Homo sapiens: one gene and its partner. The protein of the gene in region 2 purifies or fractionates together with the protein of the main gene of each other region. This does not show direct contact. Each region holds a gene or a part of one and is shown on either strand. Other genes may lie near its edges. The genes, in order: ECI2 and ZNF286A.

Region 1 (3,835 bases), on a different chromosome or scaffold from region 2:
TTTGAGATCTTGCAGCAATATTTGCTAAGCCTTTTCCTATAGCTCAGCTTCTGGTCTTGTCACAATCCCCTTCGAGTCATGCCACAGGGCGTGGGCAACTAGGAAACACAGTGAAAGACCTGAGCAGCCACTTAACCAGCCTGGGAGAGAATACACCCGTGAGCAGGCTGATGGAAGGGCTGCTGTGATTGGGGGTGGCTCTGGCAGCCGTGAGCCCCCACAAAACCTCCCATCTGTTGGTACTTACTGTAACTCTGAAAGTGAAGACGTCATCATGTCTCTCCTTAGGAGATACTGGTCATCCATAAAGGAACCGAGTGGCCTCCAAACTCAGGGGACCAAGGGAGGCTGGCACAGCCCTGGTCCTTCAAGTGACTAATGCCACACAGCTGCAAGGCTGAGGTGCTGTGCTGCTTGCAGTGCAGCTAGCACTAAGCAGCCAGCTGAAGAGGAGGATCCCAGTTCTGGGAACTGCAGAGAGAATTTCTAATTTTCCTGCATAGCAGATACTTCCCATAGCCTGATTCCTCCATTGGTAAAACTCTTAAAGAGTTGAAAAGCAAATCATTAGCTTCTCTTTTGTCCATATTACCAAGGGAAAGAAGGGAGAGTATATGAGATTACTCTTCCTTCTTTCTTGAGATGACTCATAAAATTTTATATTTAAACATTCCAAAAGTTACCTTGGCTGGGCTCATTATCTTCGGAAAAGTGTAAGAGGAGCATCCTTCCGGACTTTGGCCTAGGTGACTAAATGGTGTATGAAATGTTGCCTGCAGAGGCAGGAGAGAAAAGAAAACCATCTTTTCATGTGTGATTTTTTTTTTTTTTTTTGAGACAAAGGGTTTCGCTCTTTTGCCCAGGCTGCAGTGAAGTGGCGCGATCTCGGCTCACTGCAACCTCCACCCCTTGGGTTCAAGCGATTCTCCTGCCTCAGCCTCCACAGCAGCTACGATTACAGGCATGCGCTGCCATGCCTGGCTAATTTTTGTATTTTTCGTAGAGACGGGGTTTCGCCCTGTTGGCCAGGTTGGTTTCAAACTTCTTACCTCAGGTGATCCACCTGCCTCGGCCTCCCAAAGTGCTAGGATCACAGGCGTGAGCCACCATGCCTGGCTTCATGTGTTATTTTTAAAAATCACGATTTGCTTATAACTTCACAATACTTAATAATATTTATTTAAAAATTAAGATTATGTGGTTAATATGCACACACAATTCACCCTTTAAAAGTGTATAGTTGGATGAGTTTGAACAAATAGAGAGTTACATAGCCACCACCACTACTGACATGCGGAACATTTCAGCCACCCTGAAAGGTTCCGGGGGCCCTTCTGTAGTCAGTCCCTCCCTCCCACCCCCAAGCAACTGCTAATCTGTTTTCTGTCCCTACAGTTTTGACTTTTATAGAATGCTGTATAAGTGGAATCCTACATTCTGTAGCATTTTGAGTCTGACTTCTGAGAGTCACCATGCTGTTGTATGTATTAGTAGTTTGTTCCTCGCTATTTCTGAGTAGTATTCCTTTGTATGGATGCACAATAATATGTTTATCATTCACCAGTTAATGCCATTGGTGTTGTTTCTAGCATTCAAATGGTTGTACCATTTGACACTGCCACTAGCAACGTATGAAAGGCTACTATGAAGAAGGCTGCTATGAAAAACAAGTTGAACACCTTAAATATATCTAGTCGTGTGTTGCTTAACAATGGGGATATGTTCTGAGAAATGCATAATTAGGCAATTTTGTCATTGTGCCAATATCATGGAGTATACTTACATATACTTGGATGCCACAGCCTACTGCACACCTAGCTATGTGGTAATCCCTACTGCTTCCAGGCTACCAACTTGGACAGCATGTTACTATACTTAATACTCTAGGCAGTTATAACAAATGGCATTTGTGTATCTAAATATATCAAACATAGAAAAGGTAGGCCGGGTGTGGTGGCTCATGCCTGTAATCCCAACACTTTGGGAGGCAGAGGTGGGCAAATCACCTGAGGTCAGCAGTTCGAGACCAGCCTGGCCAACGTAGTGAAACCCCATCTCTACTAAAAATACAAAAATTAGCCTGGTGTGGTGGTGTGCACCTGGAGTCCCAGCTACTCGGGAGGCTGAGGCACAAGAATTGCTTGAACCCGGGAGGAGGAGGCTGCAGTGAGCCGAGATCATGCCACTGTACTCCAGCCTGGATGACAGAGTGAAAAAAAAAAAAGAAAAGGTATAGTAAGATATGGTGTTATAATCTTAGGAGACCAGCGTTTTACATGCAGTCTGCCATTGACTAAAATGTTGTTATGCAGCACCTGACTGTACAATTCTTATTTGTCAAGTATACCTCAATGAAACTGAAAAAAAATTTAAAAATAAAAATGTTCAGATAATGTTAACAAAAAGGCAGTTAGGAACACTTGTGTACAGGTCACTGGGTGAATCTCTTTTAAATTATCATAGGTAAATACCTAAGTGGTATGGCTGGTCTGTGTGGTAAATGTATATTTAGCTCAGAAGCTGCTAGACTGTTTTCTAGAGTGGTTGTACCATTTGACATTCCCACCAGCAATGTATGAAAGTTCCAATTGCTCCACATCCTCACTAAACCTAGCTATTAAGTCTTTTTCATTTTAACCATGCTAGTATGTATGTAGTGGGGTCTCACTGTGGTTTTAATTTACATGTCCCTAACCATTAATGGTATTAAGTCTCTTACCATGTACTTATTAGACATACGTATATTTTCTTTGGTGAAGCAACTGTTAAGATATTTTCTCCACTATTTTTTTAAGTTAGGCTGTTTACCTTCCTATTATATAGTTGTAAGATACACATTCAGATTGCAAGTCTTTTATTAGAGCGTCAGGCAAATCTTTTCTCCTGGTCTATGGCTTATCTTTTCATTTTCTCAGTGGTTTCTCTCATATGGTTTTAATAGCCCTTTATATTTCATTTTGTCTGACCTATTCATTCCTCACCATTGCCCATTTTTATTTTAGCTTGTGGATCTATCGCTTTATAGACAAACTTTAAAAAGTATCGTGGAGAGATCAGCTTTTGTTACATGAGTTGAAAAATTGTTTCCTCAATCTGTCATTTGTCTTGATTTTGCCCCAGTGGTTTTTTTGGTTGGCTTTAACTACTGGAATTAATTCAATATTGGTTATTTAGTATATAGTCATTTTTAGTTTTTTTTTTTTTTACATTTAAGACATATTTTTGTGTTTCTTAATGAATAAATTATGAAAGAATGTTAATTTAAAATTCATAATATGTAAAAGAATATTTAGATTTCATTTCCTATAATCAGACACGCTGTTGTTTTTACTATATAACTGTTAGAAGATATAAATCTATAACATATGCAGCATATACATAAAAATAATCACAATATTTTTAAAAGTTTCTGTTAATGTCATGTATCTTCTTTTTTTATCCAAAAGAAAACTTATTCAAAAAAATGTACCCAGAAGACACAGCCTAAGGAATACAAGCAGGAAACTGAGAAACCTGCCAACAACAGCTAAAGGGACACAAACAGGTACATGCAAAGTTGCCAGTAAGCAGCATTTAAAATGCTGATTTTCAGAAAGAGAGCAGCAGGTGGAGTTAAGGGTTTAGGCTCTGGCGTCAGACTACTTAGGGACGTTGGGAAAGTTTCTTACCCTCTCTGTACCACAGTTTTCTCATTTGTAAAATGGGAACCAATCCTTCTTTGCTTTTTTTTTTTTTTGAGACGGAGTCTTGCTCGGTTGCCCAGCCTTGAGTGCAGTGGCGCAATCTCAACTCGCTGCAACCTCCGCCTCCCGGGTTCAAGCGATTCTCCTGCCTC
Region 2 (2,603 bases):
ATGATTTAGCACTGTCCCCCTACTGCTGTCTCGTGATAGAGTTCTCATGAGATTTGGTTGCATAAAAAGTGTGTAGCACCTCCCCTCTCTCTTTTCCTCTTGCTCTAGCCCTGTGAAGATACCTGCTCTGGCTTTGCCTTTTGCCATGAGTAAAAGCTCCCTGAGACCTCCCCAGTCATACTTCCTGTACAGCCCATGGAACCATGAGCCAATTAAACCTTTTTTCTTTATAAGTTACCCAGTCTCAGGCATTTCTTTATAGCAGTGTGAGATTGAACCGATACAGACAACAATAACAAAAAGTAGATAAATATGAAGGCCAGAGAAATGGCAACTTCTTCACGAAGGGAAGCTGCTTATCCTCAAGCAAGTCAGTTGAGGACTATCCTGTGAGCTATTTTCCGTGCCTTGTTTTCCACTCATACAGGGAAGTATGCCCTGGTGTCTCACAGTTGCTTCAGTTCTTCTTTACTGGGACCCTAAATATAATAACACACTGAACCACTCAACTTCTCAGACCTTCAATATCCCTGGGGCTTTTTCTCAAATGGACACAGCATAGCTTTCAGAAAGCTGAATAATGTAGACAAAAGAAGTCTCCCTCACCCTTTGATTATGGAAAACCAAAGATTTATTCAGTGCCAAGGATAAGAAAGGAAGGACTTGATCAACAACCACTGTTAAGATTTTGACCCATTCACTACTTCACGTGAACTCCCAGGGAAATGGAAAATGAAAGAAGGTCTCCGCGGTAGAGGGATAACAATGACATAAATCAATGATGATGCCAGGCATGGTGGCTCATGCCTGTAATCCCAGCACTTTGGGAGGCCGAGGCAGGCAGATCACGAGGTCAGGAGATCAAGACCATCCTGGCTAACATGGTGAAACCCCATCTCTACTAAAAATACAAAAAAAATTAGCCAGGCGTACTGGCAGGTGCCTGTAGTCCCAGCTACTTGGGAGGCTGAGACAAGAGAATGGCATGAACCTGGGAGGTGGAGGTTGCAGTGAGCCGAGATCGCGCCACTGCACTCCAGCCCGGGCAACAGAGCAAGACTCTGTCTCAAAAAAAAAAAAAAAAAAAAATCAATGATGTACATAATCCATGTGAACGTAACTTAGAGTTGTCTGTAAATATTATACATCCCAGTTATGGTCATCAACATAGACAGCAGCTTGTTGAGGGAGGAAGGGAATTCTAAGGACTTTGAACCCAGCATTTTTGGTTTTTAAGGCTAATATAAAAGAAATTACACTCTAGATGAATTATACCATATGTGTATCTAGATCTCAAGGAGTAATAAATAACAACATTGTGTCTTCCTGATGATAAGGATGTAAGCCCTCAGCCTAACCTACCCAATAAGAATTTCCTTACAAAGTGAGAGGCTTACAACAAAGCTCTGACATAAACAAGAGAGGGGAAAACTGGATTTCACAATGTTCGTACTGCTACCTACTCTCAGGGACTTCTTGAATTTCCACAGATAGCTATTTGGGACGTTGGAGATTAAAATTTTGAAATCGCTGGCTAGATTTCATAATTATCAAATTAACGGACATAAAGAACCTGCTTATGGCTCAAAACTATGTATTACGCAAATGAAATTAGATGCATACAGAATTGGTCCTCACATGCATATTATGGATGCGCCTTCCACCTAAACACTCAAGTATTTAATACAGTGATAAAACCAACTTACATTTCTTCACATTCAGTAATTTTTCAGGGTTGCTCTTCAGTGTGAACTCTTTGATGTCTGATGAGAGATGAACTGCACTTAAAGCTTTTCCCACACTCATTACATCTAAAGGGTTTCTCTCCGGTATGAGTTCTCTGATGTTGAATGAGAGCTGATGAATGAATGAAGGCTTTTCCACACTCGCTACATTTGTACGGTTTCTTTCCAATATGAATTCTTTGATGTTTAGCAAAATTGGAGCTCCGGCTGAAGGTTTTCCCACATTCATTACACTCATAGGGTTTCTCTCCAGTGTGAATTCTCTGATGTTGAACAAGATGTGTGCTCTGACTAAAAGTTTTTCCACATTCACTGCATTCATATGGCTTTTCTCCAGTATGAACTCTCTGATGCTTAGTTAGGGATGAGCAATGGCTAAAGGCTTTCCCACATTCTTGACATTTATAAGGTTTCTCTCCAGTATGAGTTCTTTGATGTTTAATGAGTGCTGATGAATGAATAAAAGCTTTATCACATTCATTACATTCATAAGGCTTCACTCCAGTATGAATCAACTGATGCTGCACAAGATGTGTACTTCGATTAAAACCTTTCCCACATTCATTGCATTCATAAGGTCTCTCTCCAACGTGAATTCTCTGATGTGTTGCAAGGGATGAGCTTTCTGTGAAGGTTTTCTTGCATTCACTGCATTCAAAGAGAATTCTAGTATGAGTTCTCTGGTGTTTAGTTAAATTAGCTCTGTGGCTAAAAGATTTCCCACATTCATTGCAGGTATAGGGTTTCTCTCCAGTATGGACTCTCTGGTGTCGAATAAGCACTGAATGGTAGGTGAAGAGTTCACCACAATCATTACATTTATGAGGTTTTTTCTCTTTATAAGTTCTCTGCTTTTTC

The links.
Region 1: the proteins of ZNF286A (region 2) and ECI2 purify together in Homo sapiens (affinity purification with mass spectrometry; one large-scale study listed by BioGRID and IntAct). This does not show direct contact.

What each region holds. Positions count from the first base shown.
Region 1 is NC_000006.12:4,118,503-4,122,337, forward strand, and holds part of ECI2 (enoyl-CoA delta isomerase 2), read right to left. Parts: intron 3,545-3,835; exon of another isoform or gene 3,447-3,544; intron 774-3,446; coding exon 684-773; intron 1-683. UniProt on the Homo sapiens protein: Able to isomerize both 3-cis and 3-trans double bonds into the 2-trans form in a range of enoyl-CoA species. Has a preference for 3-trans substrates.
Region 2 is NC_000017.11:15,716,417-15,719,019, reverse strand, and holds part of ZNF286A (zinc finger protein 286A), read right to left. Parts: coding exon 1,730-2,603; 3' UTR 1-1,729. UniProt on the Homo sapiens protein: May be involved in transcriptional regulation.